Regions from separate parts of the Homo sapiens genome. Here region 1 is linked to region 2. The links come from fine-mapping of genetic effects on gene expression. A gene starts in region 2. The other region holds a variant in brackets. All regions are shown on one strand. Distances are from middle to middle. Region 1 has its middle 75 kb from the start of LINC01626. Region 2 holds the start of LINC00472 (long intergenic non-protein coding RNA 472).

Region 1 (4,401 bases), 75 kb before region 2:
CTCCTGCCCCAGCCTCCTGAATAGCTGGGATTACAGGCACATGCCACCACACCCAGCTAATTTTTGTATTTTTAGTAGAGATGGGATTTCACCATGTTGACCAGTCTGATCTCGAACTCCTGACCTTGTGATCCGCCTGCCTTGGCCTCCCAAAGTGCTGAGATTACAGGCGTGAACCACCGTGCCCGGCCATCATTATTTTTAATAGATCTATAATGTCCCATATTATTACCATATCATAATTTATTCAACTATTCCCTCTGTAATGAACATTCAACTTGTTTTCAGGTTTTTGCCACCTGAAAAATCACCTGTTTATTACAGAGCTTTTACTTTATAAGTAATAAACCCTTTAATAGACATGTGTTTATGTACTGGTAATTCCTCAATTGGGATTGCTAAATAAAAGTGTATGATGTTTTAAATTGTAATAGCCATTTCCAGTTTAATTTCTAAAAAGGTTTGAGCAAGTCACACTCCCAGCAGCTAAGTAGAGGGCCTACTTCACTAATGTTGGACAGTGTTTTCTTCTTTAAATTTTTGCTTATCTGGTGTGTGAAATATTCCATCTAATTTTCTTATATTTTTCATTTCCTTGATTCACTAGTGAAAATACAATGTTTGTGGCCCATTTTCTTTTCTTTATTTACAACTTCTTTTAGTAGTCATTTGTACATTAGGAATATCACTTACATGTCTTCTGATGGCATTCTGACTGCATATATTTTTCCCAATCCATTGTTTTGTATAAGATATGTCTTCAAATACACACAAATACACACACACAGTCATGCACTGCATAATGACATTTCAGTTAATGATGGGCCTCTTTTACGACGGTGTTCCTGTAAGATTATTGGTCCTATAAGATTATAATACTGTATTTTTGCACTACCTTTTCTATATTCAGATATGTTTACATATTAAAAACTTACCACTGTGTTACAATTGCACACAGTATTCAGTAAAGACACAAGCTGCAAAGGTTTATAGCCTAGAAGCAATAGGCTATGCCATATAGGCATGTAGTAGGCTATACCATCTAAGTTTGTGTAAGCACTCTATGATGTTTGCACAGTGGTGGAATCACCTCATGATTTATTTCTCAAAATGTATCCCCATTGTTAAGTAATGCATGACTATATATGTATATATGTACACACACATATATATATATTCCTTCATTCTAATCCAGTTAAATATAACCATGTTTTCTTGCTAAGTTTCCTACCTACCTTAACATCTCTCTTGACCAAAATTGTACACGTATTTTTAAATATTTTGTTTTATTTTTAATTTTTACATTTTGTTTATATTAAAATTTCATTTAAAGATAGGGTCAAGGAGGAACCCCCTAGAAGCTGATGAGCCTTGTAAGTTCCAGTAGTTTCCAACTCATCTTTAGGTCATTTCTTCCTCACAAATCATTCCTTTCTCATGCAAATATTTCTCCTGTTTCCATCAATATACTTGGAAATAACAAACCACTTTTCTTTTAAAATAGTGAATCCAAAATTTGTATCGAATTTCCCCCAATTAATTAAAAGAAATTTACTTCAACAAGCACTCTCTATTGCTGTCTGCTGTGCATCGGGTGTTGGGGAAACATTGGCAGAGATACAGAAAGGGGAAAATGTGACATGGCAGTTTTCCATAGGGCACTTCCAAACTTGATAAGATATTCTTTTTCAGACCAAAGCTCTACAAAGTTTACAGTTCAATTTTATATCAAGGGACCAATTTTTCACACACGAATCATCATTTAAAATTTGGTGGTGAAAAGGGAAATGGCAGAAAAATTTTGTGGAGTGGGGGTTGTCTCTTTTGTTCTCTTGTGGGAAACACAAAAAACAAAATAAAATGTGACTGTTGCTTCCTTCCCCCACATCCCAAACTCTATGTGGTTTAGAGGAAGGAAGTGTTCAGGAGAGAAATCAGTTTCCTAAAGTTTTAACCAAAAGACTTAGGGGATTGAATTTTTTTCTAAAATAACAACTGCAAACGGATATTTATATAAAGAGTTAGGTCAAACCTAAGAACTAAGAGTTTATTTTTAGATTTCTGCTTGGCCAAGGGGGAAATATGGTAAATGAGCCTCATGTTCTTAAATGGGCATGCAATGGAACTCAAAAGATTTCAGAAATCTGAGAAAATGCTCTTAAGAGCATCAGTTTCTGTAGGCATTATTAGAAACCCCTAGACAATAACAATATTACTACGGGTTTTCTTCCTTCCCCGCCGGCCCCCAAAGTTACTTTCAGTTTTAGTGCTCTGGTCTCTACATTCTTGAAGATACCAAAACAAAAAGAATAAAGATTATGTAAACATAGAAGATATAAATAGAATGTCAAGTGACTTTAGCTGCACAG[A/G]TGGTGAAGCTGTGCTTTCTGTGGGGCAGCCACCAGCCCTGTGTGGCTATGAAGCATTTAAATGTGGCAAGTCCAGATTGAGATCTGCAGAAGCATTTAGTACACATTGGATTTAAAAGTGAAGTATGAAAAAATACAAAATATCTCATTAAAATGTTTATATTGATTACATATTGAAATGGTCATACTTTAGACATAGTTGGTTCTATAAAAATATATTATTAAAATTAATTGCACCCATTTCTTTTTTCCTTTTTTAAGTGTGACTACAAGAATATTTAAAATTGCATCTGTAACTCAGAAAATCTTTCTGTTATATAACAGTGGTACAGTACTGGAATTAAGAGCTGGGCTCTGAAGTAAACCTACCTGGATTCATAGTTGGGCTACTGACACACAGGCCAGATGACCTTGGGTAAGTTCCATAGGCAATCTGTGCATCAAATTTCATATTTATAAAACTATGAAGGATAAAAGCTTTCCTATTTCAGAGGGCTGTTTGAGCATAAAGCGTTCAGAGCCTGGCACGGTATAAGAATTCACTAAGGCTTCGTTCTGTTATTTTTACTTCAGAATCCAAAAAAGCAAACACTTTTTTTCTGTAAGAGAGAAGCTCTAAAAATAAACAACAAAAAAAAATTAAAATCAGAAATTTATGCTTCCCCCACCTTCCTTCCCCATTCTTTGCAGCCAACTTATTACATTGAGGAAAAAAATCAAACTATCCTTCTAAAACAAAATATTTTCAAGATGCGAGATTGTCTGTTAGGCATTTTTTACCCCCCATAGCTGTGCCCAGTTCTCTGAGAAGACGAATGCAATTAGAGAAAACTATAGATTTTTCCTTTCTATTAATACATCTCATACAGAATTATTGGCTGTAGTATTGGATCTGACTTTAGAAAAAAATAAGAGCATGTATCTGATGCCCCTGACATCATGGAAGTGAGCCTGAAAACAATAATAGTTACAAGGCACAACTTGAAGTTATTGTGGGTTCAGTTCTAGACCACTGCAATAAAATAGACATCACGATAAAAGGAGCCATACTATTTTTTTTGTTTCCCAGTGCATTTAAAAGTTATGTTTATACTATACTGCAATCTATTAAGTGTGCAATAGCATTATGTCTAAAAAATGTACTTACCTTAATTTTAGAATACTTTATTGCTAAAAAATTCTAATGATCATCTGAGCTTTGAATGGGTCCTAATCTTTTGCTGGTAAAGGGTCATGCCTCGACGACCACTGCTGATCAGGATGGTGGTTGCTAAAAGTTGGGGTGGCTACAGCACTTTTTAAAAATAAGGCAACAATGAAGTTTGTCACATTGATTGAATTTCCCTTTCACAAAAGATTTCTCTGTAGTGTATGATGCTGTTTGATAACATTTTACCCACAAGAGAACTTCTTTCAAAATTGGAGTCACTCCTCTTAAAACCTGCCACTGCTTTATCAACTAAGTTTATGTAATATTCCAGATTCCTTGTTGTCATTTCAACACTGTTCACAGTATCTTCACCAAGAGTAGATTCTATCTCAAGAAACCACTTTCTTTGCTCAGCCATAAGAAGCAACTTCTTATCCATTCAAGTTTTAACATGAGATTGGAGGAATCCAGTCCAATCTTCAAGCTGAACTTATAATATCAGTTCTCTTGCTATTTCCACCACATCTACAGTTCCTTCCTACACTGAAGTCTTGAACCCTCAAAAGCATCCACAGAGGTTGAAATCAACTTCTTCCAAACTTCTGTTAATGTTGATATTTTGACCTCCTCCCATAAATTATGAATGGTCTTTCTGACATCTAGAATGGCAAATCCTTTCCAGAAGGTTTTCAATTTGCCCAGATTCATCAAGAAATCACTATCTATGGCAGCTATAGTCTTATGAAATGCATTTCTTAAAAAATAAGACTTGAAAGCCAAAATTACTACTTGACCCATGGGCTGCAGAAAGGACACTGTGTTAGCAGCGTGAAAATAACATTAATCTCCTTATACATCTCCATCAGAGGTCTTAGGTGACCA
Region 2 (4,401 bases):
AAATCATGCATATTCATATTGATAAATTCTTCCACAATTTTCACTCAGAAAATGAAATACATACAGTTAATTAACTGAAAATTACAACTGCTGGTTCAACTAAATTCAGCAAATTTTACATTCTAGTGTTACCATATGTACATTTGTTTGAAGTAGTAATTAAACTTCTGTACTAGACTCCATATTCTGGGAAAAAGTAAACATATTATGACACATGGAATCTAAAAATACACATTTATTTTCCTCTTTGACAAGTACAAAAGTGATAAGTGAATCTTCAATAAATGCCCCCAAAATTTAAAATTCAGTAATTGATTTATGGGTATAACTTTGACCCAGCCATTTACAACTTCCATCTAAAACTATATTAGCAGACATGGGATACGTTAACTTATTTTAAGCATATACATTGAAACTTGCTTAAGTTTTTAAACATTATGAACAGAGTATTAAACTGGACATTATGATACATCTTGTTTTTGAGGAATATACTAAGAGGAATACACTAAGAGTGAATAAAATTTCTCGAACGTTTTCCATCCAGAATTCTTTCCTCAGTATTCTTCTCTTCTAACATCCTCTTCATTAAAAAAGAGAAAGAAACCCTGAAAGTACTGCTTTGATCTAGAATGAACAGGCAGGAGTTTCATTCAGATCTATTTTGAGAGAAAACTGATGGGCTCAAAAATATACTTCAGTTGAAAAAATGTGCAGTCGAGGAAATATTAATGTTCTGATAATAAACAGAGAATAATAACACATTTAAGACTGTTCTGCACTTGGCACAGTATTTTACAGAAAGCAAAGTGCTTGACAAACACTATCTTGGAGGGATCTTACAGCACCCCAAGGAGGCAGGTAGAGCCAGGCGTATTGTTCTCTTGTAACAGAGTTAGTCATTAAGAGATTGGCTCAAGGTCAATCCAGAACCTGGATCTGTTGATAAAACTTTATTTCAGGGGTCATGTTATCCCCCGAACTTAATGTGGTAAGTCATGGTGAGTTTCAATCACGAAAGCAAGGAGGTAATATAGCCATATTTTTCTTGTTTGAGATCTCTCTCTTCTTTCCGTTCATTGTACAGATCACCCTTTAAAAAATGTATTTGGTCATCAAAATAATTTATAAAGAAGGAACATGCCACATGTGTACAAAAATTTTTAAATGCACAGTTTATTACCCGAAGAAATAAACTGACGTAACTATTTGAAGTACAAATAAGTGTAATTTTATTTTAAAAGATGCAAATATGTGTTGCCAAATACTGTTTTCGTCATGGTGTAGTCCACTTTCAGTAAACAACTCAATGAAGTTTATAAACTTCATATGAACAGTAACAAATGAGTCATCCTATTCAAATCAAATAAACAAATAACTAGTGTGCCTATTATTTGTAAGGTCCTGTGATCAAAAGGTACAGTCGTTTATAGCCAGTGCTTTACTCAAGTCCTTTCTTGATAGATAGATGGGTGGCAGATGGATAGAGATATCCTACATATCTATCATCTATCTCTACATTCTTCTTTTCCGGTATTTCATCCAACTTCCACTAAAGATAGTTTGTGTGACTTTATTATAGAAATAAAGTTCACAATAAAGATGATTTACATACAGAACTCTTATATTTTCATTCATGGAAAAAACCACAACATGGTGGTGCCAGTGACAGTCTGTGTTTTGGGGCAGGATAGAAACTAACCTGCTTCAGTTACCTGACATTCTAGCAAACTTATTAGGAACACAAACGCTCGGGTCTCTGAATGCACCAACCTGAGCGCCGGCTGATTAGGCATTGTAAAGCAGTGTTCTAAAAGGAAAGGCCTTCACTTAAACAGTGCTACAACGTGTTTGTTCAGCTTTCTTTCATACACAAACTTTTGCCAGAAAAGGCGTTTTAAGCCGAGGGTAAAGATTTTGTGCGTCCACCGTTCCCATCTTCAACTCTTTAGAATAATAGTCATTTAAGCACCGGACCTGTCTTCAGATTCTTACTTTGCGACACAGCTTTGGCCGGACTTGGCTTGATCTGGGCTCCAGGATCGGTCCCACCACCCGGGCTCGGAGCGGTTTGTTCCTAGTGGATCAGGGCGGGTGTGTTGCCGGAGTCGCCTTCTATTGGCTACACTCCCGGGGACTGGCTGGGCTTTCCGACACCTGATTGGGCGGAACAGCCCTCTGTACGCCGACATCATTGGAGGGCGCTGGAGCCAGGGGGCGGAGCGGGTTCCCCAGGATTCTTGACCGGGCGCGCTAGTCCGTCCGCTGAGCCGGGCGCGGGGCGCAAGAGCGGAGCTGCGCGAGCCGCTGCGGAGGGAAGGGCTCCTAGCCAATTGGGGTCTTTGAGGCGAATGCGAGGCTGGGGCCGGTTGCCTACCGGCCGCTTCTCGCCGAGGCAGTCCAGACTTTTCCCCCGGCGGTGCCCGCTCCAAGACAGCATCTGTCAACGCTCCTCTTCTCCCCTCCTCCTCCTGCCGGGCCGGGCTCCGCCGGCTGCGGCCGAGAGGACGCGGGACCCGGCGCGGTGAGCCCATCAGCTGTCAGGCGAGCGGCGAAGCGGCTGGAGGGCGGCGAGAGACACACAAAGAACGCGGTGGGCGGCGGCGGCGAAAGGGGACGGCAACTCCTCCCCGCGCCCGCCGGTGCCACCGCCGGCCGTGCTTGTTCCGAGGCCGCGCAGACAATGCGGCCGGGCTCGTCCCCGCGTGCCCCAGAGTGCGGAGCGCCCGCGCTCCCCCGACCCCAACTTGACCGTCTCCCGGCTCGCCCAGCCCCCTCCCGGGGTAGGGGCGCCCCCTCCCTCCGGTGGCCGGCGAAGGAAGTCGGTCCGCGGCCGCAGATCCCGGCAACTTGCGAACCGGGAAAAGTTTGCGGCGCCTCCGCGGGGCGGCGCGACGCGGCCCGCCCCTCGCGTCCGCGGTCATCGCGGGTGACTTTCTCGACTCGTCGTCAGCCGGGGCCGCAGCGCGGCCGGTGGGGACTGCGGGGCGGGCCGGAGTCCGTCCGAGGGCTCCCGCACCTCGGGCTGCGGGTGAGTCGGCTTTAGGCGCCGTGGGCTCAAGTGGTTTAGGGCACCTGGGCTTGGGAAGAAGTCGTGGAGAGAGCCTTTAATACTTTATGGAGCTGGCGGGGAGAACAAATAAAATTGCGGTAGCTTGAAGGGCACTGACATGCCACTGACTTGGGAACCGTATCCGTGGGAACTCTTCGGGTGCCGGCGCGACCAAGGGCCTGTGCGCGGCTGGGTGGGAGATGGAAAGGTTAGAAGGTCGCGGACTAGCCCTGCCTGCGACTGGCTCAGCTTGACCTTGGACCAGTGACTTTACCACTTAGATTTTTCTCGTGGGTAATATGTGGGGCCACAGCAACGTGGTCTATGCTGTCGTCCAGTTTTTAGACTACATCTCCGTTTTTGAGATTTTCCTAGGGCCTCAACACGGTGCGCGAGTTATCAAGCGATAGGCCAGGATATGTTTACATGCGCCTGGATTCACCTTTCAGCCTACTCAGAAGTAACTTTTAAGTCTGATGTTTTAAAACACTAACATTTAAAGGCTTTCCTTCACTATCCATTGCTTATTTTACGAACCTTAGGATTGTCGTATTTTGCTGCACCATTTGGAATCCTAGGGGCCAGGGTGGGGACAGAGAGCCAAGTCTGAGGGTGAAGTGGCAGGTGCCCCCGGGCGATCCCTGCCGGATCCAGTTGAGGGGGAGAACAAAGCATTTATTATGCATAAGAGAGAGTGAACAGGGCAGGTGTTTGTGTTTTTGTTTTCTGTATTATACTGAAAACTTTTTTTGGTTGGGGGGGTGCGGGCAGTGGAGGAGGGGACAAAGAAGAAAAAGAAATGTCAAAAAAGAGAGGAAAATGTCACTTATACCCAAAGTAAATCTTAAAACTAATGTAAGTCTTCCTTACAGGAACAGCAACACATAATGCAAGTACATCTTGATCTAATTTTAATGAAGGATTGAAAATAGCTACTGTGTTCAGTATTACTGACGCCAAGGCAGCTCACTTACATAATCTTCTTTGTTGAGATGTGTTAGTGGCATGTATAATTTTGATAAATAATTAATGTTAAAGGTTTAGTCCGGCAATGGTATTGAAATATTGTCGTCACAGATTGTATTGCAAGACAATGGTGTGTAAACTTTTGGTTATCATGATAACCTGCATTTTTTTCTCTAAACAGTAAAATCACACATTTTTCATAACCAAAATTCTCTTAAATAATGCATGTGTACTTTGTCAGTAGTGTATACAGGAGAAATTATTTTGTTCTGTAAATGACAAAGTCTTTCAGTTTTCTCACCATTTCATGAGAGTGAATTCTAGATTTCAGGTACTCCACTGGGCATTTTCTCTTCATGGAGCTTATAGCAACAAAAGTGTTTTAC

Evidence for each region.
Region 1: its variant is fine-mapped to the expression of LINC00472 in tibial artery (GTEx, PIP 0.92).

Annotation. Positions count from the first base shown.
Region 1 is chr6:71,494,063-71,498,463 of GRCh38, reverse strand. No RefSeq gene overlaps it. Among named protein-coding and RNA genes, the nearest start is that of LINC01626, 75 kb to the right of the region's middle. RefSeq lists an enhancer at 2,230-2,429. The variant A/G (reference allele first, on the strand shown) is at 2,370.
Region 2 is chr6:71,418,693-71,423,093 of GRCh38, reverse strand. LINC00472 (long intergenic non-protein coding RNA 472) reads left to right here and starts at 2,349. Exons shown (of 3, transcript NR_121614.1): 1 at 2,349-3,028. LINC01626 (long intergenic non-protein coding RNA 1626) reads right to left here and starts at 2,067. Exons shown (of 8, transcript NR_121615.1): 1 at 1,993-2,067.